Homo sapiens: one gene and its partners. The protein of the gene in region 4 purifies or fractionates together with the protein of the main gene of each other region. This does not show direct contact. Each region holds a gene or a part of one and is shown on either strand. Other genes may lie near its edges. The genes, in order: MIOS, STK17B, LEMD3, LAMP1, ECE1, TFRC and CUX1.

What was found.
Region 1: the proteins of LAMP1 (region 4) and MIOS purify together in Homo sapiens (affinity purification with western blotting, with the first as the bait; one study listed by BioGRID). This does not show direct contact.
Region 2: the proteins of LAMP1 (region 4) and STK17B purify together in Homo sapiens (affinity purification with mass spectrometry; 2 studies listed by BioGRID and IntAct, with this or other methods). This does not show direct contact.
Region 3: the proteins of LAMP1 (region 4) and LEMD3 purify together in Homo sapiens (affinity purification with mass spectrometry; 2 studies listed by BioGRID and IntAct, with this or other methods). This does not show direct contact.
Region 5: the proteins of LAMP1 (region 4) and ECE1 purify together in Homo sapiens (affinity purification with mass spectrometry; one large-scale study listed by BioGRID and IntAct). This does not show direct contact.
Region 6: the proteins of LAMP1 (region 4) and TFRC purify together in Homo sapiens (affinity purification with mass spectrometry; 2 studies listed by BioGRID and IntAct, with this or other methods). This does not show direct contact.
Region 7: the proteins of LAMP1 (region 4) and CUX1 purify together in Homo sapiens (affinity purification with mass spectrometry; 2 studies listed by BioGRID and IntAct, with this or other methods). This does not show direct contact.

What each region holds. Positions count from the first base shown.
Region 1 is NC_000007.14:7,573,384-7,576,883, reverse strand, and holds part of MIOS (GATOR2 complex protein MIOS), read right to left. Parts: coding exon 3,115-3,500; intron 2,787-3,114; coding exon 2,688-2,786; intron 1-2,687. UniProt on the Homo sapiens protein: As a component of the GATOR2 complex, functions as an activator of the amino acid-sensing branch of the mTORC1 signaling pathway. The GATOR2 complex indirectly activates mTORC1 through the inhibition of the GATOR1 subcomplex.
Region 2 is NC_000002.12:196,154,579-196,158,078, forward strand, and holds part of STK17B (serine/threonine-protein kinase 17B), read right to left. Parts: intron 2,074-3,500; coding exon 1,861-2,073; intron 466-1,860; exon of another isoform or gene 390-465; intron 1-389. UniProt on the Homo sapiens protein: Phosphorylates myosin light chains. Acts as a positive regulator of apoptosis.
Region 3 is NC_000012.12:65,239,083-65,242,582, reverse strand, and holds part of LEMD3 (inner nuclear membrane protein Man1), read right to left. Parts: intron 2,655-3,500; coding exon 2,553-2,654; intron 2,448-2,552; coding exon 2,345-2,447; intron 1,675-2,344; coding exon 1,496-1,674; intron 1-1,495.
Region 4 is NC_000013.11:113,303,739-113,307,238, reverse strand, and holds part of LAMP1 (lysosome-associated membrane glycoprotein 1 precursor), read right to left. Parts: intron 1,606-3,500; exon of another isoform or gene 1,441-1,605; coding exon of another isoform or gene 1,437-1,440; intron 755-1,436; coding exon 633-754; intron 1-632. UniProt on the Homo sapiens protein: Lysosomal membrane glycoprotein which plays an important role in lysosome biogenesis, lysosomal pH regulation, autophagy and cholesterol homeostasis.
Region 5 is NC_000001.11:21,255,964-21,259,463, forward strand, and holds part of ECE1 (endothelin-converting enzyme 1), read right to left. Parts: intron 2,877-3,500; coding exon 2,730-2,876; intron 1,628-2,729; coding exon 1,562-1,627; intron 176-1,561; coding exon 1-175. UniProt on the Homo sapiens protein: Converts big endothelin-1 to endothelin-1.
Region 6 is NC_000003.12:196,061,591-196,065,090, reverse strand, and holds part of TFRC (transferrin receptor protein 1), read left to right. Parts: intron 1-662; coding exon 663-782; intron 783-2,151; coding exon 2,152-2,237; intron 2,238-2,445; coding exon 2,446-2,509; intron 2,510-3,500. UniProt on the Homo sapiens protein: Cellular uptake of iron occurs via receptor-mediated endocytosis of ligand-occupied transferrin receptor into specialized endosomes. Endosomal acidification leads to iron release.
Region 7 is NC_000007.14:102,198,626-102,202,125, reverse strand, and holds part of CUX1 (Homeobox protein cut-like 1), read right to left. Parts: intron 3,325-3,500; coding exon 3,259-3,324; intron 2,056-3,258; coding exon 1,954-2,055; intron 767-1,953; coding exon 1-766. UniProt on the Homo sapiens protein: May be involved in intra-Golgi retrograde transport.

The DNA of each region.
Region 1 (3,500 bases), on a different chromosome or scaffold from region 4:
TCTTCTCCACCCCTTTATCTAATTAATCATTAAATTTTCTCCTATTCTCTAATGTATCCACATTTCTCTAGCTCCTCTGCTACTAACCTTGGTAAGGATAGCATCACGTCTTGCCTCCTTGCAGCAGGCTTCTATCTGATATCCCTACTATCAATCTTGATCCTTTTAAAACACAAATCTGTCACAAATCCATCTGTTTCCCCGTCTTACAAGATGAATCTCCCTAAATTCTTAACATGATTTCTAAGTCTTTCTTGAGTTAGCCCACTGCTTACCTTTCTAGCCTCCATTCTTTCCTCACTTCCTCTCTCATGCTCTGTTTCAGCCATAATAATGTGCTATGCTCTCTACCCTCTGGGTCCACTGCACATGCTGCTCCCTGTCTGGACCTTGTCTTTAACTGTACCTCCTCTGAGAAACCTCTAATCCCTGCAACCAGATTAGGAGTCCTTCCTGTAATTAACTGTCTGTTCTTCCCTATGTTATAACTGCCAGCTTACTTGTCTATATTCTAAACTAGAATATAAACTCCTCAAGAGCAGGGATGACATTGATCCTGCTCAATCTCCATGAGGGAAGAGATTTATGTATCTTCTTGAGAGTTATGTCTCTAGTTCCTAGGATAACTCCTGGCATATAGCATGCATGTAGGTAATAAATACTTGCTGAATGAATGAGCTTACTTCATATTGTAGTTGTAAAAATTAAAGTAACATGGGAAAAGCAACTAATTCATAGCAAGCACTTATATATATACTATTTGTTACCAAAATTAAAATTTAGCTGTATGCTCTAATAAACTTGTGTATTAGGTTACTGTGGACAAGATGGCTCAATGTGTTGACTTACCATGTGTTGATTATTAGAGATACAATTAGAGGAAAAGGTATGGCCAAATAAAACAGAAGACTGAAATCTAAGAGTGGCATATTTGACAGTATTTCTCTACTTTTCACCTTTGGGTAGTAGAAACAAAAATATCTATACCAAACAAAAAAAAAAAAGCTGAAAACCTAGCAATGAGAGAATGATGAATGAGGAAATCTTTCCAACAGTAGTGTTTCTTTAGTCTGGGTAGAGACTATTTTGACACAGGGGTGGGATACTCAGTTTGTCTCTAGTGCACCAGAAACATAAACATATTACATTTTCCCCTTTTGCTTTTCCTCAGATGCTGGCTTTTCCTTAAAATATATCAAAATACAAAAAACACAATAACCAACCTCTAAATAATTGAGTGCAGTGTGGCCTGATCTACTATATAGCTAAAACACTATAAATTCTATAAACTTGGTGTTTAATTCTTTGTAGCAATAGGCAATGGCTCTAAAATCTTGAACCATGGTACCAGGTTCATTTGTGGGAGTAAAACAGTATGTGTGCCCTTTTACCTATGTTAATAAAAACAGCAGCTTCTAACTAAACTTATTCATTTTACTATTTATAATAAAGGTTACTTTTTTTGGTGGAGGGCTAATACAAAAACAATAAAATCAAACTGATCAGTAAGTAGTCTACTGCATCTTTCAGTAAAGTGAACCAAAGTAATTTGAAAGACGTTAAAAAAACACTATAATGTAACAGTTTAATTAAAACACTTAACCTACTCTAAAATATTTTATTATTTTGTATTTTGTTTGTATGGTACTGATACAAGCTCCGTAAAAAATCAAATTGGATTTACTACTTCTATTACTGCTCTTTGACTAAATAATGTTAACTACTTTTCTAACAGCTTGACTTGGGCCCAAATTTGACTTACCAAAAGTTAGAGAACGAATCCTAGATCACAGAGATACAGGGTGAGCATCCCAAATCTGAAAACTGAAGTCCAAAAGGCTTCAAAATCTGAAACTTTCTAAGTGCTGAGATGATATTCAAAGGAAATGCTCATCGGAGCATTTTGGATTTCAGAATAGGGATGGTCAATCTCTAAGTATATAACGCAAATATTTCAAAATCTGAAAGTATCTGAAACATTTTTGGTCCCAAGCCATTTTGGATAAGGTATACTCAACCTGCAATTCTAATATAACCCATTATTCAATTCCAGTAAAAGAATAGGAACAACTGTTTAAAGCAGTCAGAAAAAAAAAAAAGTTTGGTTTTTGTCACTTTTATTCTTTAATAGTTTACCATACCAATTTTCAATCCTACATTAACTCACACGTTAATTAATTCATTCACTAATTAACCAAGGACTATATCAGGTATAATTCCTCCACGTTAGGCCATATTTCATATCATACTCCTTGCTGTTAGATGGCTCAATGAAAGTATTTGAGGAGCAAAATAAAAAGGGATCTCCTTCAATTAGAGATCTTTTTAGTTTTTAAGAAGCAAAATGTTGCGATAAAACCTGAACTAACAATCAGTAATCTGTAAATTGTCTAGTGTAAAACCTCTCAAAGTGGGTTTTCAAAAAAATAACATTGAATAAACGTGTGGATAGATTTAAGAAGATCAACATCACTTCAGAGAATTAAGACTCCCTGCAAAAAGGGTTTTGGATATAAATACAAGTATGCATTTAACTCAACAATACAATGAAATATCCAATCAGAAAACAAAAAAAATTATGTACATGATCCTGAAATAACTAGATAATTTCTGCCAAATGACAGGGGGCAAAATAAAAGTACAAAAGTTATAAACATATTGGAGAAAATGAAATAGAATTTTCTTACCCAACGATGACTTTACAATTGATTTAATTCCTGCATAAACCAATGATCCTTTGTTGCCTGGAGATTTCTGATCCATATCTTCTGTGTATTGCTTCATAAGTATTTAAATGCATAGGAAATACTAGTGATGCATGACAATATATTTCAAAGCTAAATTTATTTTGATTTGGAGCCAATTCATAATAAGTATCAGTGTAAATAAGGTGGTTCGACTCTATTGCAGAGATACACTTTTCTTCCTCCTACACAATCTACAAAGCAGTATTTCAAGTTCGAAAGTTTAGAACAATTTTACTTTATAATGTTAGTATTATGTAACTTGTATTTGTATATAAAACATTGAGCATATTTACAGACTGACCTTTTGGCAAACTTCAAGAACATTTCTACCTGATTCACCTCACAAAATTCACAATGAAAAGGATATAGTGCAGAGTATACCAGAGTGACTTGAGCTGTGGATCTTCATTTCCAGCTAAAATGTGGTTCCTCCACACCTGCTCTGTATCAAGTCCATACCTTGATAAAGCCCGAAGACGCATCTTCGTTGCTATATCTTTTTCTAAAGAATTATCATTTTCTTCTTCCGTACATTCATATAAATGACGACCACAAGCCCACATTAAAGATGTAATTGGGCTCCAGGCAAGAGATATCCTTTCAAAAACAGTGAAGTCTGACATTGTTCGGTTGGGAGTTACAACTATCATTCGATTTTGACTTGTTGGATGCCACGCAAAGGAAGCAATGTAATTGTCACAAGGTTGCACACTTCTTTCAATTATTGTGGGTTCAGTTTCATCCCCAATGGGA
Region 2 (3,500 bases), on a different chromosome or scaffold from region 4:
AACTTTTCTATAGATTTGGAATTTTGTAAAATAAGAGTTGGGGAAGAAAAAGTGTGTAGGATGATTTGAGGACAGAATTGACTGGGTGATAGTTATTAAAGATTCCACCGTTTTAATTTCACCATATAAAAATTATGCCACACTACTAAAACAACTAAACCTGATTAAATTTTTACCTTCAACTGAGACTACTAAATGTGACAATGCCACCCCAAAAGCGGAAGGCATAGTAATTAAGCCGAAGTTCTAGCAATAAATTTTAGTGGGTCTTAGTCACTCTGGTAAGAAATGTAATACATTAATCTACTTAAACATTTTCTGAGTGCTTGCTACATTTCAGCCAGAGGTATAGAGATCAGTAAGTTCTGCCAGTTTACTGGGTAAGGTACCTGAGTCAATTTTCCGGAGTATGAACAAGGTCCATCCATAAAATGTCTCAAATCTTTCCGATGTATTTTGTCGTTGCTGTTTGGATGAACCCCCAAAAGAGGATTTTATGAAAATAGTCAATGTTCTTATGTATATTCATCCTCCAAACCTAGTATTCCACTACTGTTTTGACAAATGTTAGCTACTTTTTACACACTTCAAACATGCAGATGTTATGCAAGTAGGTAACTTTTTAAAGGTCAGCTGAAGAATCTTTGACAAAAATAATTACAAAATATATGAAAACTGAAATCATATTGGTAGTATCTTGGCCTTTTCTGCAATTCTAATTTATTTTGAAAGTGCTATATAACACGCCTTAAGACGGTTCTGGGAAATGTACATAGTATTCATTCTTAAATGAACTACTTGTCAGTTTAACATTTTGCAAAATCTTCATTTTCATTCACAAGTTGATTCCAGCCAATCTATTTCGTGGAACAAAAACATTAATTTTAAAATAACTAAATACAAAAATAAGGTTAATATACCTTTAAATTTAAAAAGGCAATGATGCAAGTTAGTTACTAAAAAGAATTACTATAGTTAGCAATACATTTTTTACTAAAATAAACACTTATCTCTTCTTGGTTTATCATAAAATATATTTACTTCATTAAAAACTATTGGCACCCAAGGTATACTAAACATAAATCTAGCTGATCTCTTCCAGTTGTTGCAGATGTTCAAACACATTTTACATCCTTAGAATAAACGTGACAGACAATCATGCAACAAAGGCACTCTGTAAGAGTCACATGTCAATATACTAGGTAACAAACCGGTTACCTTAACAATCCTCTACCCCTACCACCTGGTGAACTGTAGAATACTGGGGGTGTTTTCACTTTTTCACAGACTTGTGGCAAGAGATATATTTATTATTGCTACAACTAACATAGTGCTTTACACATTACATATACCAAATGTATTTCTTTAACAAACAATGTATTAAGCAAAGTTTTATGCAGTTTACCTTTCTATTCTCCTTATTTTCTTGAAGGTATTTTTCAAATAGATGAAGAAAATATACAAATTACTTCAATTCTCCTTTCTATTCTTATTTTCTTGAAGGTATTTTTCAAATAGATGAAGAAAATATACAAATTACTTCAATTCTATCTGCCCATCAGATTGTGTTCCAGAAAAATTCAATCAATTAGCCATTAAGAAAATAATGTATATTCATTTCTCCACATTCCTCAAATGTTGTATTTGTCATTTGCTTATTCTGTGCTGTTAGTTTTTGTGTATGTGCCCGAGGCTATACATTTAGTCTTATGAAAATATCTGAATATAAATTAGGTCCCTTTTACATTTTATTAACAGGAATCTTTACAAGTTCTTGTCACACCTTTATCATTCTTATTCTTGACATTTTAATCATCTTTTCATACCAACTAAAATAGGTACTATTTAGTATATACTTACTATTCCAATATCAAAATGATTTCACTTGTATTTTCATAGACCTCATGAAGATTAATAACACGGGGACAAGACTTTGCCAATTCAAGCACAGCAATCTCGTGTAAAATTTCTGCTCGACAATCCTGTCCTCTTCTTCTCTTTTTTAGAAATTTTGCAGCATATTCTTGGCCAGTAGATTTTGATATACATTGTCTAACCACAGCAAATTTTCCTCTGGGGGAAGATGAGAACAATCAATTTTAATTTTTCTGCAGAGAACAACGTTAGTATATTACAGATTCTGTTATACCTCCAACTTAAAGTCAATTCTTTGAAATATCTGTGTCATTAGGAATTTATCTTTGTTCTCTAAATTGATTCAAATATCATACGTACTTTTATAAAATTTATAGTGCTATCACGTACAAATGTAAATGGCAAACTATAACAACAGGATAAGACAGAATTATATTTATTCTTCACTACTAAAATGATACATTATCTTGGGAGGCCGAGGCAGGCAGATCACTTGAGGTCAGGAGCTCAAGACCAGCCTGGCCAACATGGCAAAACCCTGTCTCTACTAAAAATATAAAAATCAGCCAGGCGTTGTGGCGCATGCCTGTAATCCCAGCTACACAGGAGAATCTATTGAATCTGGGAGGCAGAAGTTGCAGTGAGCCAAGATCATGCCACTGTACTCCAGCCTGGGTGACAGAGTGAGACTGTCTCAAAAAAAAAATAAAAAAAAGATACATTATCATTGCAGGGAAATAATCTCATTTGCACACCAACTCCATGCCATGCTCTTGATATAAATTATTGTGTTTAAGTATCACAACAATCCTATATAATAAATGCTCTCCTGTTCTTCACACCTCAGAGAAGATATGTAATTTAGTCAAGGTAAAGATTTAAACTCAGGTCTATTTCCAAAAACTGTACCCTTCATAGGGTATCATGTTAACTCTCTAATTAGAATAGCTTACCTTTAAATATAAGAAATTAAAGTGAATGCAAAAATGGGTATTTGACTTATTTAATTTTATTAGTAATTTTTCCTTTCAACACAATTTTTACCACCTTTGAAACTATCACAATTGTCAATTGTTTTAGCAATATGTCTCTTAGTAATGCTCAGTAGTCTTTGAAGCCTGTAACAGATAACTAAGGTATATGTGTCCTACAGAAAATATTCAAAGATACTTCATGATAAACTAAGAAAATAATGGTTATCACAGCTATGTACAAACACACCCATTAAGGTCATGTTTATCATTTTAGAAATAAGTATGCTTTTAGCTCTCTCCAATGGCAGTGCTTAGTACCTCTGCCAAAATTTAAAGACACCGAAAATTCATTTCTATTGGCATACGTGTTACTGTAAGTCTACAGCGGCCAAAAATTTATTTTCACAAAAGCCTAAAGCTATTCTGAGTCAAGGATTATTTTGGGAAATTAATAAAAGCTATTCTATTGACTGCCTACCCAGAAAAATATACACAAGCCCTTAAATAGGAAGTTTTACATATAATTCCAGAGGGTTTTCAGATCTTAAAGCCCATCCATAAACCTTATAAGGCTGAGTATAGGGGATCCAAAATTAAGAACCTCTACCTTAAATTTTGAATTACTCTCTGGATTCTGATACTAACAAATCA
Region 3 (3,500 bases), on a different chromosome or scaffold from region 4:
AGGAGAGATTAAGAATTATCCCTAAGTTTATGGCAGAATCAACTCAGGAAAGGTATCATTAACTAGACTAGGAACACTGAAGAGGATCAGGCTGGTGTACATGTTGAATCTGTGGTGCCCACCTCCTAGTACAGAAATATATAGTTGGGTACAAAAATCTGAAAACCAGACTTCATTCAAAATAAAAAATTTGGGAGTTATCCCAATATGGTAAATTAAGTCACAGCAAGACGATTATCTAGGGAGAAATGGCAGAGTGGGAAAAAAAAGATGGCCTTGAGAAACTCTAACACCTAGAGGTGAAGAAAAAGAGGATAATCTAGAAAAGGACTGAAGAAAAAGTCTGAGGTAGGAGAAAAAAAACAGAAGAAGGTGGCATCCCCAAATCCCAGTGAAGAAAGTTTCAAGGAGGGCTGAACTGTCAAACACTGTTAAGAGGTCAAGTAAAATAAGGAATTCTCTATTTTCAGTTTATAGGGAAACTGAAATGCATGCATCATTTAGAGGAAATAGTATAATCATTGGCAACATGAAAGCATCATTTTTTTAATTTAAGTTCTGGGATACATGTACAGGACATGCAGATTTGTTACATAGGTAAACGTGTGTCATAGTGGTTTGCTGCACCTATCAACTCAAACCCATCACCCAGGTATTAAGCCCTGCCTGCTTTAGCTGTTTACCCTGACAGAGCATCACTTTTATGCCATGTTTAAAGAAGCCTCTTATTCAAGCTTTTTCAAAGTGAAAATTAATTGGAGAATAAAAAAGGAGTGACTGGACTTTGTATTGCATGTCCAAAACAACTTACCTTTTCCACAAATACTATGTTTAGCAAATACTGACATACTTTTATAGGGAAAAAGTCATAATTTTCTGATGCATTGTTTTCTGCTTTTCTGTGTAGTAAAGGTTTGGGTACATATGACAGCCAATCTTCAAAACCCCCTATAAACTTACCCCTTTCTTATTTATACATGTTTTTGAAACTATGTAGGCATTAAGAAAAATATGGAAAGATACCCACAAAAGTTACTTGGCAGGAGGAATATATAAATAGAAAGGTCTTAGTAAGAGGAGGCAGGCAAAAACTGGAAAAAAAAGAGCAGTTAAAAAGTTATGACTTCACTTATATACATATATAGTTTATATATATTTTATTGTATATATAACATAAATTATGTGTCTTATTTACATAAAGAAATTAGATGAAAAGAATGCAGTTAATATATATAATACTAAGTTGCTTCATTAAGTGAAAAAGGCAAGATTCAAGGAATATTCATCTTTATTAAAGATAAACCATTTATGTTTGCATTAGCAAAGATAAAAGTGTGGAAGGATACATAAGAAGCTAACACTGATTCCTTCTACGAAACAGAACGAGAGAGTTTTGCCTTCATACATCTTTGAATTGTACTGTTTCACTTAACACATATTTGTCATTTTGAAAAATTAGAAGAAAATTACTTTTTTGATGTTTAAAAATACATACCTTGACCTTGCCATACTTTAGAAGGTATAACTAATATTTTGTCACAGGATGCAGAAGGCTGGATCCACCGCCAAACCAGAAAATCTGCACCACCTATTCTTCGTGTTTCCGTGCGAACTCTAGACTCATTAGCAGCAAGGAAGTCAACAGCTCTATCCCAGACTTTCTTCATTTTTTTCCTATCATGTGAACAAAATGGCAAATTTACTATCATCTTGGCTTGTCATCTTTTTGAAATATTAGTATCTGAGGTAATAGTTAACTCTAGCTGTTCTTACCACTACTCATGGAGTTTGTTCAAAGAAGATTTAGATGCCTATATCTCATCTCAGATTTTCTGAGTTTCAATTTCCAGAGCTAGAGCACAAACATCTGTATTTTTTTTCCCCAAAAGCTCCACTGGCTTTATGTGTTGCTAGGGTCAAGATGCTGCTTCAGGATATGGAATTATCTTTTATTTTCAAAAAGTTGCATTTTAGTTTTTACTTTAAAAGCTTCATTAATAATAAAGTTAGTACTTAAAAAACATTAGTAAAACACCAGCCACTGGCTGTCATCTATTTCTTTATCAAGATGAAATTAAAGGAAATAAGATGGAGACTAACAACAAAGAATCAAGAATGCCTAGGAATGAGAATGACTTAGAAATCCAGGTGTCACTCAAAATCAGGAGAATGGAAGAGAATTTAGAAAGAGAGTATAAAGTACAAAAACAAAGCAAAACCAAAAAAAACCTGTGCAGTAAGCAAGTCTAGTTGAGAAGGGTCACAGCTCTCAATATAATTTTCAATACTGCAGAAAGCACTTAAATTTTCTGATTTACTTGAACTCATAATGCTTTGAACACACCTGTCATGAGGCTGTATTAAGGAATCGCGTACATGTGGAATAGGCATGTAAGGTTGTAAATCTTTGTTTTCCTGGCAGGCTTCATTATGACTTCGTAAAACATCTAAAAATAAATAAAATTTACAAATGAATCAATCACTTGACATAATGTAGTTTAATCATGCAATGACTCTTCTAGAAATAGTTGAGATTCTTACAAATATCATACCTATAATCTTTACCACCATATCATACATCTGCCTTGTTTCCTCCTCTTCTTTTGTCCATCGATATTTCATGTAACGCAGAACGACACAAACCATCACTACACCTGTAATATTAATATACTTTGTATTTTAAAAATTGTGGTCAATATCATTCAATAATATTTCAGTGATTATTTTAACTGCCACAACGGAATGAACCTTCAAGACAGATGGCTGAATTAGCTATATAATTAAAACTACATAAAAAAATTTAATACTGAACATTTTCCAAAGATTCACTTTCTAGAAAAAAGCATTTCTTCCATTACACTGATAAGTGAACATTTAAATTCTAACTACTATTTAAAAATATATATATATAACTATGTTTCACAAACTTTTTTCCTTTGAAGCATAAAACGACTAGAAAAGTGAACCTCATGAGATTAAACATACTAAATCTTACTTTAAGTAAAATGAATTTTTCTTTTGTTGTTGTTGTTTTTGAGATAGGGTCTTACTCTGTCATCCAGGCTGGAGGGCAGTAGTGCAATCATGGCTAACTGCAGCCTCCAACTCCTGGGCTCAAGAAATCCTCCTACCTCAGCTTCCCAAGTAGCTGGGACTACAGGCACGTGCCACTATGCCTGTCTAATTTTAAAAATTTTTTTGTAGAGGTAGGGTCTATGCTTCCCAGGCTGGTCTTAAACTCCTGAGTGCAAGCAATCCTCCTGCCTCCCAAAGTGCTGGGATTACAGGTGTGAGCCACTAAAGCTGGCCAAAATGAATTATTTTTAAAGAAGAAAGAAAGAATGAAAAAACAACTCTCACCTAAATCCCTATTATCAATTAAAAAATGATAAAAATTTTAAATGTAGGTAAATTACATTTTAAAAACTAAATTTTAATAAACTTTATAACACTTTATTATTTAAAAATAAGCTCAATTTTTGTATTTTTCAATTCTACTT
Region 4 (3,500 bases):
TTGTGGCGAGCTCAGATCGTACCACTGCACTCCAGCCTGGGCGACAAACCAAGATTCCATCTCAAAAAAAAAAAAGAAAACTAGAAAAATGTTGATGATAGGCTGGGCGCGGTGGCTCACACCTGTAATCCCAGCACTTTGGGAGGCCAAGGCGGGTGGATCACGAGGTCAGGAGACTGAGACCATCAAGGCTAACACAGTGAAACCCCATCTCTACTAAAAATACAAAATATTAGCTGTGCGTGGTGGCGAGCGCCTGTAGCCCCAGCTACTGGGGAGGCTGAGGCAGGAGAATGGCATGAACCCAGGAGGCGGAGCTTGCAGTGAGCAGAGATCGCGCCACTGCACTCCAGCCTGGGTGACAGAGCGAGACTCCGTCTCAAAAAAAAAAAAAAAAAAAAAAAGGAAAATGTTCATGATGAACAGTGAGGTGCAGCACATATACAGGTTTGTTACTGTGCCTGTGGCTATGGCACATGACAGCGCAGGTTACTGACAACACCAGAAGGAGATATGCAGATAGGAAAAGCACCATGTTCAGATGGGGCCATTTTTCAAAGACTTGGTTGAAATGTTAAAAATCATCTTTCCACACACACAAGGGAAGCATGAAGTGCCCTGGTGTTTCCTACCTTAGGGCCACTCTTGGTGTCGTAGTTCACTGAGAAGGCAGCAGAGAAGTTGGCCATTATGCACGCGGTCCCGTTGCCATTTTTCACCATAAACATTGCTGCTGACGCACAATGCATGAGGCCTGTCAATTCCAGGGAAGACGGAGACCATCAAAAACTGTCCAGAAAATACGACCGAGTATTTCCATTTTCCACAGCTGTAGCAGTGATGGCTTTTATTACAAGATTCCACTGTTTCTCTTTTTTTTTTTTTGAGACGGAGTCTCACTGTCGCCAGGCTGGGGTGCAGTGGCGTGATCTCAGCTCACTGCAACCTCCACCTCCCAGGTTCAAGCAATTCTCCTGCCTCAGCCTCCCAAGTAGCTGGAACTGCAGGCACGTGCCACCAAACCCAGCTAATTTCTGTTTTTAGTAGCGACGGGGTTTTGCCACTTTGGCCAGGCTGGTCTTGAACTCCTGACCTCAGGTGATCCACCCACCTTGGCCTCCCAAGGTGCTGGGATTATAGGTGTCAGCCACTGCACCCAGCCTCCACTGTGTTTCTTAAATTCAATGAACAACCAGACACATGGATTACGCAGCCAGTTCACCTGGTGCCCTGTCCCTTTCGGATACTATTCTGGAATTGTTATCTCTAAGCCCATCTGATTGAGTTTGCCAACCTAGTCTATTGCTATTTAGTGCTTTATTCCAGAACACTTATCAGGAAGGCACATGTCAATTTCTGCATCATCCTAGGCATACGCTGTTCCGCCTTTCTCAGAGGATCTCTGTAAGACGTGGTGCCTTGAAGGCACAACTCACCCATCTGCAGAAATCCATGGGAGAGGCTGCAGGATCTTTCACTGTGGTCCTCACCTGCTACTTAACGTCTGGTCAGTTTTATTTCTCATGGACTCAAAGTGCTGAGCTCTTTGCCCAATTTCAGAAAGGTCCTCACAGCACTACACATCGGTGGAGTGGCTTCCCTTCCCCATCCTGAAGCAAAGGGACAGAATGGAAGCTCTATAGGTCTTTCCAGCTGGACAGTGGTCACTGCTAAATATTTCCTCTCTGACTTACTCATACTCCACTTCCCTGATCAAGATGTTTGGCAACAAATGTAATCTGATCACTACGGTAGAGACACTGGTAATTGTACAAATTGCACGTTATTACACAGTTCTTTCATTACAGATTGGAAAACAGGTGTTTCTGCCTGTTCTAACGCCAAACACCTATCTGCCACCACTGGAATCCGTGCAGAAATGACATGCTTTCACTTGTCTCTGCCACTACAAGTTCGTGCATGCCAGTCCAGTGAGCACTCACCACCCAGGGGCTGATCTCACACTGCGTGAGCACAGCCTTCCAACCACACACACACCCGAGTCTCATCTGTCACTCTAAGTGTAAATGCAACTCAGGCACACTGTGAGGGCAGATATTGAAAGAGAGGATGCTTAGCTTTTCATTTAAAATCCTATTCCCTGGAAAAGTAATGGATTCCAATGAATCCGACTCATTTCAACCTTGGGTCTTTCACAAAATAAAATCTTTACAGCAACTGTTCTTCAAGCCTAAAGCGAAGCATATAACCAGAAGTAGTCCCACCTATCTTCCCTTTGGTAAAGGAAATACCAAAATCTATGTCCATAAAGAAAAGGTGCTGCCGGGCACAGTGGCTCACGCCTGTAATCCCAGCACTTTGGTGGGAAGCTGAGGCAGGTGGATCATGAAGTCAGGAGTTCAAGACCAGCCTACCCAACATGGTGAAACCTCGTCTCTACTAAAAATACAAAAATTATCTGGGCATGGTGGCAGGCGCCTGTAATCCCAGGTACTAGGGAGGCTGAGGCAGGAGAATCACTTGAACCAGGGAGGCCGAGGTTGCAGTGAGTCGAGATTGCACCACTGCCCTCCAGCCTGGGTGACAAGAGCAAAACTCTGTCTCAAAAAAAAAAAAAGAAAAAGAAAAGGTGCTACACGACAATGAAACAAAGTAGGGCGTGCAAGGAAACCTCCAATCTACTGTCTGCTTTGCTTGGTTTTTCAAGCCACACTCTGCAACACTGAGGCAGGATCATACTAACGGCATTTCCAATGAATCTAGAGAATCTAGGGAAGATTCTACCACTTATTTTTGACATAGTAAAGGTTTCTAAAAACAGACAAAATATTCTCACTCTTGTGAAAGATCAGATGAGTGTACAGAAGCTACAGCAGACGCCAGCAAGGCAGAAGCAGCGGACAGGCAGACACAGCAGACGCCAGAGACTTAACACTTGACTGGAGCTCAGCGTGGACAGGGAGACTGCCCACCCCGCCCTCAGGTGAGGAGTCACAGGGCCCACAGTCACCACTGACAACCCGGATGCCCACATGGGAGCAGCCATAGGCTGGCTTTTATTAAGCTGCCCTTTTATAAGTTTCCTCAAACACTTTTCACTGACCCGAAGCACTTCATTAGGAAATATTTCAAACTAAGTCATTTTTCAATTATACAATTTTTTTTTCACTTAGTAAATATGCTGAGGGTTTCAGCTTTTTTATTTTTATTTTTTAGAGACTGAGTCTCACTCTTGCCCAGGCTGGAGTGCAGTAGCCCTCCACCTCCCAGGTTCAAGCGATTCTCGTGCCTCAGCCTCCTGAGTAGCTGGGACTACAGGTTTGTACCACCATGTCTGGCTACTTTTTGTATTTTTAGTAGAGACGGGGTAGACAGGGTTTTGCCATGTTGGCCAGGCTGGTCTCCAACTCCTCGCCTCAAGTGATCCACCTGCCTCAGCCTCACAAAGTGCTGGGATTATGGGTGTAAGCCACCATGCCCAGCCAGGTCTCAGCTTTCAGAGGAAAACAAAGAAATATCATTTAAATAAATTTAAAGTA
Region 5 (3,500 bases), on a different chromosome or scaffold from region 4:
TCACTTTGTGGTAGATGAGCTCCTCATCACGGCGCTTCTCCTGTGGGATGGTGATGTTGGCCAGTGCCGTCTCAAAGTCCAAGATCTGCTGCATCTGGGGCCGGATGGCCTCCTCGTCCCCGCCGCCCAGCAGCTTCCCCAGCTGGACCATGTAGTTCAGATATCCGGTCAGCACCTGCAGGGCCCATACCCCAAACTGTCAGTGGCTGCCCCCCCACTATCCACTGGACGAGAGTTGGTGGGGGGCTTGGCCAGCCAAGTCCGGCACAGGGAGCCAGGGGGCTGCACAGTGCCCCCAAGACACCCGTGGGGCCAGGTGTGGTGGCTCACGCCTGTAATCCTGGCACTTTGGGAGGCTGAGGTGGGTGGATCACCTAAGGTCAGGAGTTTGAGACCAACCTGGCCAACATGGCGAAACCCCGTCTCTACTAAAAATACAAAAATTAGCTGAGCATAGTGGGAGGTGCCTATAATCCCAGCTACTCAGGAGGCTGAGGCAGGAGAATCACTTGAACCCAGGAGGAGGAGGTTGCAGTGAGCCCAGATTGTGCGCCATGGCACTCTAGCCTGGGCGGCAGAGAGAGACTTTGTCTCAAAAAAAAAAGAAGAAGACACCCGTGGGAGACACAGCATTGAGAATGATCTCGGGGCCGTGTCTCTCTGCTGCTTCCCTACAGCCTCCAGGAGAAAGCCCAAAGTCTTGGCTCGTCTCACAGGTCCCCACCTGGGCTGGTCCCTGTCTTCCAGGGCTTGTCCTGGGGCTGTCTTTCCATTCTTAGAATGCATCTTTTCTGACCACCCCCCACCCGTGTTCCAAGATCTGAATTAGGTCTCCACGGTAGACTTTCTCAGCTTCACTTTCTCTTAGTTAAATAATATCCGCCTCGCCGACCAAACCACAGGCCCTGTGGGACGAAGGCTATGGTGGTCTTGTCTGCTACCATCTCCCCAGCATCAGGCACTCTGTGGGCGCTTGGTCAAGTACATGCCGGCGGAAGGATGAAAGGACAGATGAATGAGTTCCAGGTGAGGTCGCCCCAAGAGGCATCACAAGAGGCAGGCCAGGGGGAGGGAGAGCCATGGGCTTCGGAGCACGTGGATCCGGATGTGAATCTCAGGCTCGTCATTTACTGGCTATGTGACCTTGAGCAGATCACTTAGCATCTCTGAGCCTGATACCCTCTTCTGTAAAAGGCAAGACAAAACTAATTCCTGTTTGACAGATGAGGCAAATGAAGTTCAGTATCTGCAGGGTTAATGGGAGGGTCACAGGTGATGTATAAAGGGCCAGGCGAATTGTGGTAGCTGTTATTGCTGCCTCTGCCTCTCTCTAGAACCAGGACAAATGATACCTGTCTCTTGCCCCTTGTGTCCATGATGCCTGAGTGACACAGCCAGCCTAGGGGTGTCCCTCCCCTGCCAGGGTCTGCCTGTTTCACCCATCAGGTCACTGACACCCCTGGGCTCCCCTAGCTTCAAAGACCTGCACAGGTGTGGGTGTGGACACGGAGCAGGAAGGACCGTGCTGGGAGGCAGGCTGGGAGGGGAGAGGCACGCTTACCTTCTCGTTTTCAGTTTTGTTCAGGTAATAGTCTCTCGAGGGCAAGCCCAGGCCAGACTGGTCCACCTGGCAAGAGAAGCAGGCATGAGAGGGAATTCGTGTTGCAATGCGTGTATCCACTGCACGGCCTCCTGCCCTGGGAATGGCTGGCACATGGCAGCAGAGGCCCAGCTCAGGCCCTTGGAGAAGCAGGACTGCTGGCTACAGTCACTGAGAAGCCCACTCAGGGACGGGATGACACATTCCTGCCTGTCCACGTGGCCCCCCCCCGCAGGGCTCCTGGGCTCCTCAGAAGGGCTGGACAGAGCCACCCTCCTTTTTAAACAGCTACTTGCCTCGGCAAAGTGCCTCTATCTCCCCAACGCTTTCCAGGTGGTTAAGAGTCACTCAAAAGCTGTGTGATCTTGGCCAAGTTACTGAACCTTTCTGATTCTCAGGTTTCTTCTCAGGTAAATAGGGAAAATAAAACCTAACCTTCAGAGCTAGAATGGGGATTCAAGAAGACAGTGCTGGTCAAGTGCCTGCCAAGCAGGAGGGGAGGGTCAAATTCTGCTTGCTACTATTGGCACCCATGGCCACATCTTGGCATACCTAGGACAGGTGTTATTGCAATCCATTTGATTTATAAGGTAACTGTAGCTCTGAGAGGTTGAGGCACTTGCCCAAGGTCACACAGTGACTGAATGGTAGAGATGGGCTGGGAACTCAGCTTTTAGGACCCCCAGCCTGGGTTTCTCACTTCTGCATTGGAGGTTGGGGCAGACCAGTGCTGGAGCTCCCCTGGGCAGGCTGAGCCTCTGTCTGGGGCATGCTCTGACAGGGAGAGATGGATTCAAACCCATTCCAAGAAGAGTTACAAAGAGCAGACGCTAAGGAGGGGGAAACCAGGATGTGGGTTCAGCTGTGCCCAGGAGTTGACATCATTCTTGGGGCCCACGGAAACCCATCAGCACCCAAAGTTTCACCTGTATGCAGTGCCCATCTACGCAAGGCCAGCAGCCTGCAAAGATCTCACCAGTGGGGCCTCTGGAAATAACCCAGGCTCAGAAACTAGAAGACCGCCGTCCCACCCAGGGCAAGCCCCTCTCCCACCCCAGGTCCTGCTAAACTCAAAACAGGAAGAGGTCGTGCCCGCCCCCTCGACCGCTGCAGGTTCAAGCTAGCTCACCTGGATCACGTTGCTGTTGGAGTTCTTGGAATCGGCACTGACATAGACAGAGAAGAAGGGTGAGGTGCGGTAGTGGGCGGTGACCACCTGCAGGGTGTCCTGGAAGTTGTCCTTGGCCCAGGGACCTGTGATGTTCCAGCCCCCGAGCTGTGGGGAGGGAGAGCAGGCAGGGAGGTGATGAGGTGGCGGGGAGACCCAGATGTGAATTCTGGTTCTGCCGCTGACTTGCTCTGTGACCCTGGAGCAGTCGCCTGACCTCTCTGAGCCTCAAGAGCAAAGGAAAGGATTGGTCTTCATCGGGGGTTTCCGACCCATGAGCTGGAGACCCATGGATGGAGCAAAGGCTTATCCTAGACAAGCCAAGCAGCCAGGCATGAATCCAGCCGCTCCCTGGGTGGCTGGGATGAGAATGGGAAAGAGACTTTTCCCGGTTCACGGTTTATATTTTGGATAATGAATTGTGTGAATGTGATTATATCAAAACATAAATTCAATTGTGCCTCTGGGATAAAAAAGGCTCCACATGTTTAAGAAGGTTGGTAAATTACGGTCTACTTTAGTCTCAAAGTTGGGATTTTAAAAAAATTTTTTTTGAGATGGAGTCTTGCTCTGATTCCCAGGCTGAAGTGCAGTGGGGCCATCACAACTCACTGCAGCCTCCACCTCCTGGGCTCAGGTGATTGTCTCACCTCATCCTCCTAAGTAGCTATGACTACAGGTGTGTATCACCACACCTGGCTAATTTTTAAATTTTTTGGAGATGGGGTCTTG
Region 6 (3,500 bases), on a different chromosome or scaffold from region 4:
GGGTTTCTCCATGTTGGTCAGGCTCCATGAGGTCAGAGCTCCTGACCTCAGGTGATCTGCCTCCCTCAGCCTCCCAAAGTGCTGGGATTACAGGCATGAGCCACCGCGCCCAGCCTATGTGTCAGTTTTATTGGGAGGTAATAAGGCCCTAGGAAATTCTTGTTAAAAATTGACCATTATGACTAGAAAATCTATTCTAAGTTATTGACTAGACCAGTGATAAGCAAATTTCTTAAGGGGGCAGATAATAAACCTTTTGCCAGGCTATACAGTCTCTCTTTTAGCTGTTCAACTCTGTGGGAGCAAGAAAACAGGCACAGACTGTGCGTAGTGAATGGGCATGCGGGCTGTAGTTTGCCAGTCCCTGGAGTTAACTTTAAATGCAATCAAACAGCCAACACTTACTAAGAAATAAGTCCTTGGACTTAAGTAGTCAGTAAATTTAATTAGTAGTGTAGGAAAAAAGTAGCTCTACTAGTAAGGTAAAATTAATATTCTCATGTGAATTTTTAATTCCCAGAGTTTTTAGTCAGATTTGAAGTAAGGCTCTTTTATCCTTAATACATATACTGTGCTTTTACCTTTCTACTGATGTGCTAATTCTAGAAAAGTTTAGAAGCTGATTATATAAGTTCTTTCTTCCTCTTTTTTCTTTTTTAAAGATCACTATGTTGTAGTTGGGGCCCAGAGAGATGCATGGGGCCCTGGAGCTGCAAAATCCGGTGTAGGCACAGCTCTCCTATTGAAACTTGCCCAGATGTTCTCAGATATGGTCTTAAAAGGTAGAGTACAAATTTTGATTCTTTTGAATATTGGTGCACTGCATACAGTTCTAGATGTTATACTGTGCTTTGCTCACTTTGCCTGCATTCCTGTGGTTCTCATGCTAGACTCTAGTTCTTAAATACAAGGCAGATTGTCTTTTGTTGTAGCTGCCTTTTCCTTTGAAACAGCTTTCCATAAAGTGTCTTAACTGTGCTAGAAATCACCAGTTTCTTTGAGACAGTGGAGTTACTGAGCCCTAGTGCTTAGTGTGGTGGATCCAGAGTGATAAGGTGGATCATAGTCCCTAAGCAATCTATTTGAAAGCAGTAGCATACCTCTCTACTCATGTACTGAGGCCTAACAGCTATTGAAATTTTGTTCTGTTTATTCATTTATTCATTTTTTGAGACAGAGTTTCACTCTGTTGCCCAGGCTGGAGTGCAGTGGTGTGATCTCACTTAGCTCACTGCAACCTCTGCCTCCCGACTTCAAGCAATTCTCCTGCCTCAGCCTCCTGAGTAGCTGGGATTACAGGCACCCACAACCACACCCGGCCAATTTTTGTATTTTTACTAGAGACAGGGTTTCGCCATGTTGGCCAGGCTAGTCTCCTGACCTCAAGTGATTCACCCGCCTCAGCCTCCCAAAATGCTGCTAGTGAGCCACCGTGCCCTGCCTCTTTTGTTTATTTTTGAGCCTTTCTGTCCTACTTTCCACTCTTTCACACTCCTACCCACCCACACATTCAAAATCACGTCACATTCTTGAATCTTTGGGTCTTAGGGCAAACTGCAATGCTTAACTTTAATACAGAGTACATTAATGGAGAAAAAGATACAGTGAGGGAAGTGGGAGGGATGGAGGGCAGTGTGATACATGTAACCTCAAAAGGTGCTGTCACAAATATAGTTTCTCTGCAAACTCTTCTTGTAACTTAAATTTGTGAATTTTTATTTTATTTTAGAATTATTTTTTTAAAAATCCAATGTTTGGATTTACCTCTGAAGATTTTTCTCAAGATGTGCATCATCATGCTTACACTGTTTTCAATGATCTCTGGGTCCAGAAGTTAAGGAACTCCAAGAATGAAATTGTGAAAGGGTGACTACTGGCCCCTGCTATGTACTCAAAATCTTATTTGCAGATCTCCTATCTTGCTCTTTGTAGGTTACTTTAAAAAAAATTATTCCTATTCTTTTATTCTTTTACCTGGGGTCTCAAAAAAAGATTTTGTTAGTTTTTTTTTTCTTTTTTGGCTCAGAAAAAAAAGATTTTGGAATCTGCTATCTTGGAATTAGACCTTCTGATTCATCTTAAGTGGGATACCTTCCATCCTTGTCTGTGTATAACCTTTCCTCAGGTAAAGCTAACTTTTTTCTCTTTCAGATGGGTTTCAGCCCAGCAGAAGCATTATCTTTGCCAGTTGGAGTGCTGGAGACTTTGGATCGGTTGGTGCCACTGAATGGCTAGAGGTATTCTTTATCATCCCTTCCCATATTGGACACGAGCTTGTGGGCTTAGGCTGTTGTCCAGAAGTGATGTTTTTATAGGTTTGATTTTACCACTTTTGCCTTTGCGTTTAGTCTCAGTAGAGTCCAGAATTGAAAATGAATCCCTAATGCTACTGTATGTGATAAATAAACAGATTTATACTTATTAGTGTTTTCCCTTCTCTTCTAGGGATACCTTTCGTCCCTGCATTTAAAGGCTTTCACTTATATTAATCTGGATAAAGCGGTTCTTGGTAAGTATCCCTTTCATTAGCTGTGTATGAATTCAGGTAAACTTTTTTGAGATGGAGTTTTGCTCTTGTCGCCCAGGCTGGAGTGCAATGGCACGATCTCGGCTCACTGCAACCTCTGTCTCCCAGATTCAAGCGATTCTCCTGCCTTAGCCTCCTGAGTAGCTGGGATTACAGGTGCTCACTACCACACCCAGCTAATTTTTTGTATTTTTAGTAGAGACAGGGCTTCACTATGTTGGCCAGGATGGTCTCGAACTCCTGACCTCAGGCGATCTGCCTGCCTCGGCCTGGGATTACAGATGTGGGCCACTGTGCCTGGCCAGATAAACTACTTTGAAGTGGAAGAAAGCTTTTTTTTTTTTTTGAGACAGGGTCTCACTGTATTGCCCAGGCTAGAGTGCAGTGGCACAATCTTGGCTCACTGCAGCCTTGACCTCCTGGGCTCAGGTGATCCTCCCACTTCAGCCACCTGGCTAATTTTTTTTGTAGAGATGGGGTTTTGCCATGTTGCCCAGGCTGGTGTCAAACTCCTGAGTTCAAGCATTCTATGTCAGCTGCCCAAAATGCTGCGGTTACAGGCATGAGCCATTGCCCTCAGCCTGTATCTTAACCTTCCTTTAAATAGTCTGTCAAGTTACACAGTGAGCACAATTGCTTGTCTAGAACAGTGGGTAGTTCTCAGTGTGGCCCCCAGATGAGTAGCATTAGGAACTGTTACGAATGCAAACTGTCATGTCTACCCCAGACCTTTGAGTCAGAAATGGGAGTGTTGGTCTAAAAACTGGGCTTTTTGGGCTGGGCGCAGTGGTGCACGCCTGTAATCCCAGCACTTGGGAGGCCAAGGCAGGCGGATCACCTGAGGTCAGGAGTTCGAGACCAGCCTGGCCAACATGGTGAAACCCCGTCTCTACTAAAAATACCAAAATTAGCCGGGTGTGGTGGCGAGTACCTGTAATCCCAGCTACTCAGGAGGCTGAGGTAGGAGAATCAC
Region 7 (3,500 bases), on a different chromosome or scaffold from region 4:
ACCTCCTGGTACATGTAGACCTCGTACTGCTCGGGGGTCAGCGGGGGGACCGAGGGCTTGGTGGGCTTGGACATGGGCACGATCGGGGAGGATGGCAGGGGGCTGTTCTGTGGTGTCTCGCTGCGGCTGGCCCCGGTCAGACTCAGCTCTGAGCTCTGGGAGTATGGGGACTCAGCGCTGGGCCACTCCTTCCAGTACTCTGACGACGAGGGTCCCTGGAGCTGACTGCGCTCGGCCCGAGGCTGGCTGCCACCTCCGCTGCCACCGCTGCCCTTCTCTTTCCCGCCGCCCGTTTCTTCGGCCTTGGCCTCCTCGGAGGAGGCGGCATTTCTTCTCTCCGGCTGCACCGCGCTCCACCAGTGGTCCTTCCAGGCACCGCTGCGGCCCACCTCATTTTTCACCTGTCTCAGGACCCCTTGTGCACAATCGGCTGCTCCCTGGGGGTCCAGCCCGGGGGCGTCCTGGGCCTCCTTTTTGAGGGCCGGGGGGTTCGGCAGAGCAGAGGCACCGGCCTCAGGAGCTGCGGAGGGCTTCTTCAGGGAGATGGCGAGAGGTGGGTAGCTGGACACGGTGGGCATGGGCGAGGTGGACAGAAGCTTGGGGGTGAGGATGGTGATGTCACTCTGGGACAGTGGTGCCTGCTTTAAGGCAGGGTCGAGGGCAGCCTGCTGGGCCTCCATCTCCCGGCGGGCTTGCTGCAGGATGGAGCGGATGGCGTCATCAGAGTTCCCGCTGCCGGATGCGGAGGAAGGCTGGGCCGGCTCTGCTGCATGGAGAAACAGGGGTGAGAGTGTGGCAGGGCGGCCCCCTTCAGCTGGGGACATGCTTCTCATCCTAACTTGACCTACTGCAAAGTGTGGGTTATTTGGGAGAACCACACTGTGTATTTCCCCAGCATGGCCCCTGTCAGTGAAACATTCAGGCATCTTGTCTCAACCAAGGACCAGGGCCTGACACTACAGCTTGATGACCTGGTGGCCTTTGGTATACACACAGATGTAGAGGGTAATAAAGGGGGTGTCAGTGAAAGTGCTCCCCGACCTGCCCTCCTGGGGCTCCTTTCCCCGAGAATTTTTTTTTTTTTTTTTTTTTTTTTTTTTAGCGACAGGATCTCGCTGTTGTCCAGGCTGGAGCGCAGTGGCACGATCACGGCTCACTGTACCCACCCTCCACCTCCCTGGCTCAAGCAATCCTCCCAGCTCAGCCTCCCAAGTAGCTGGGACCACAGGTGCATGCCACCATGCCTGGCTAGTGTTTTAAGAGACAAGGTCTCTCACTGTGTTGCATAGGCTGGTCTTAAACTCCTGAACTCAAGTCATCCTCCCCCATCAGCTTCCCAAAATGCCAGGATTGCAGGTGTGAGCCACCGCGCCTGACCTCTGATAATTTTTATACTTGGTATTCATTTTCCTGTGCTATATTCTGAAATGCAAGTGGTTCTGTCAAAGTTAAGGAGCGTAATTTCTGTGAATAATTACAACTAGGGGCCAGGCGCGGTGGCTCACACCTGTAATCCCAGCACCGTGGGAGGCCGAGGTGGGAGGATCACTGGAGGTCAGGAGTTCGAGACCAGCCTGGCCGACATGGTAAAACCCCGTCTCTACTAAAAACACAAATATCATGGGCATGGTGGCACATGTCTATAGTCCCAGCTACTCGGGAGACTGAGGCAGGAGAATCGCTTAAACCCGGGAGGCAGAGGTTGCAGTGAGCTGAGATCGTGCCACTGCACTCCAGCACAGGCAACAGAGAGAGACTGCATCTCAAAAAAAAAGGTAACTATTAGGCAAATACAGATCACACAGACCTGCTTCTCTCTACGTGCCTAAATGCTTGAGAACAGGCATTCATTATTGTTTAAAAAAAAAATAGTTAATTACTGCTGACCAGAGCACTCATGACAATTCTCTTAATTAAGTTTGAAGACAGTGGATGAAGAAATGGAAGCTGTACCAGTTTTCTGCACTTGGAGCTCCCTCTTGGCTTGCTCTAGGATGGACTTGATGGCTTCATCAGAGCCAGTCTCCGAGGCTCGGATCCGGGTGGTGATGTTACCTGTGGGGAGAAGTTGCGCCAATGACATCAAACCCAAACCCCGGACAAAAATCAGCGCTGCGCGAAGACGTCATTCTGATATATAGCCCCGGGTGGGGGCTGGTGACACAAGGAGGCAGATGTGGCCTCCCAGTGGCCTGTGTTTGCTGTGAGTGCAACTTCACAGCGACACCGGGCAGGAGGGATTTCCTGCTCATTTGACCTTACGGTCAATGTTACTCTGCCAAAGCCGGACACCACCCGTGGGTTAGTACCCGGGAGAACCGATCATTTAATCCATATATATAAAAGGCGAGTGATTAAAAGGCAATGTTTCTCATGAGTCACTTAGAAGCAACTGCTGTGGCTTGGGACTGACTCTCCTCGGGGTTAGATGTTTATTGGATGCTGGGGTCCCACACAGGATAAACGGAAAAGGAGGGCAGAGGGTTTGAGGCTGATTGTCTATCAATCATTCAGAGGCACAGGGTGAAGAAAGGCTTAACTTAAAAAATTGTTTGCACCTATTATCACATAATATCTTTTTAAAATTTACATACGAGGAAAGGAGCCTGCAGAAATTCCTAAGTGGGGAGGATGGATTCTTTCGGCCACATGGTGATGTTTTGTGCAGGCACACGTGCCGACGAAATGAGGCTACTATGGCCCAGGGGCTGGCCCCAGCTCTTTCGGGAAGCCACCCGGATAGTTTAATTTCTTACTACCTTCCTAAATAGGAACCACTGCATTCAAAACAAGTATACCACCATTTAAAAACAAGTATGCCACCGGGACGATGTGGGATGCGTCCGTTCCATAGGACCTTGAGTGTGTTTCCGAGTTAAAAATACGAGGAAGCAGCAGTATTTAATTTGACGGGTCACCTGACTTTTCTCAGAGCAACCGCTGTTATTTTTTCAACTGCGTCTGAGAAAAACGGGGGACCGGGTAATTAGGATCTGAAGTGGGCTGGGATTCAGACTCGGGGGGCTTAGCTTAGCAATGCCTCTTCTCACCCCCGCCTGTGCTTGGGAGAGGGCAGGCAGCTCGGGAGGAAGGGGCTGGGTGTGCTTGAACCCGTGCCTTGTTTTATACTTACTAGCTGTTTTTCCATCAGGTTCCAGGCCAGAATCACACTGCACAGTTTTAACCCAAATACACAGCTAAGGACATGCTGCTTCCCTAGGTGACTGACTGCAAAGAAAACGCCTGCCTGCAACATACCTTCAGACCCATTTCTTCGTTTCGGTACTTCCTGAAATAGTCTGTTCAGGCTCTGGCCTGGATTCTCTGTTGAAAAACAAGTGTGGTAAGAACAAAACAATCAGGGGAATGGTGGTGTTGACGATATGGGCTGTGTGACATGAAATCTGAGCCGCCTGTCACTAAAGAAAGGGCTCAGGGCTGCCTGTGCAACTCGGGAGTTTCTAGAATCTTCTGAGAGGCCCTTCCCTGGCTGACCGGCC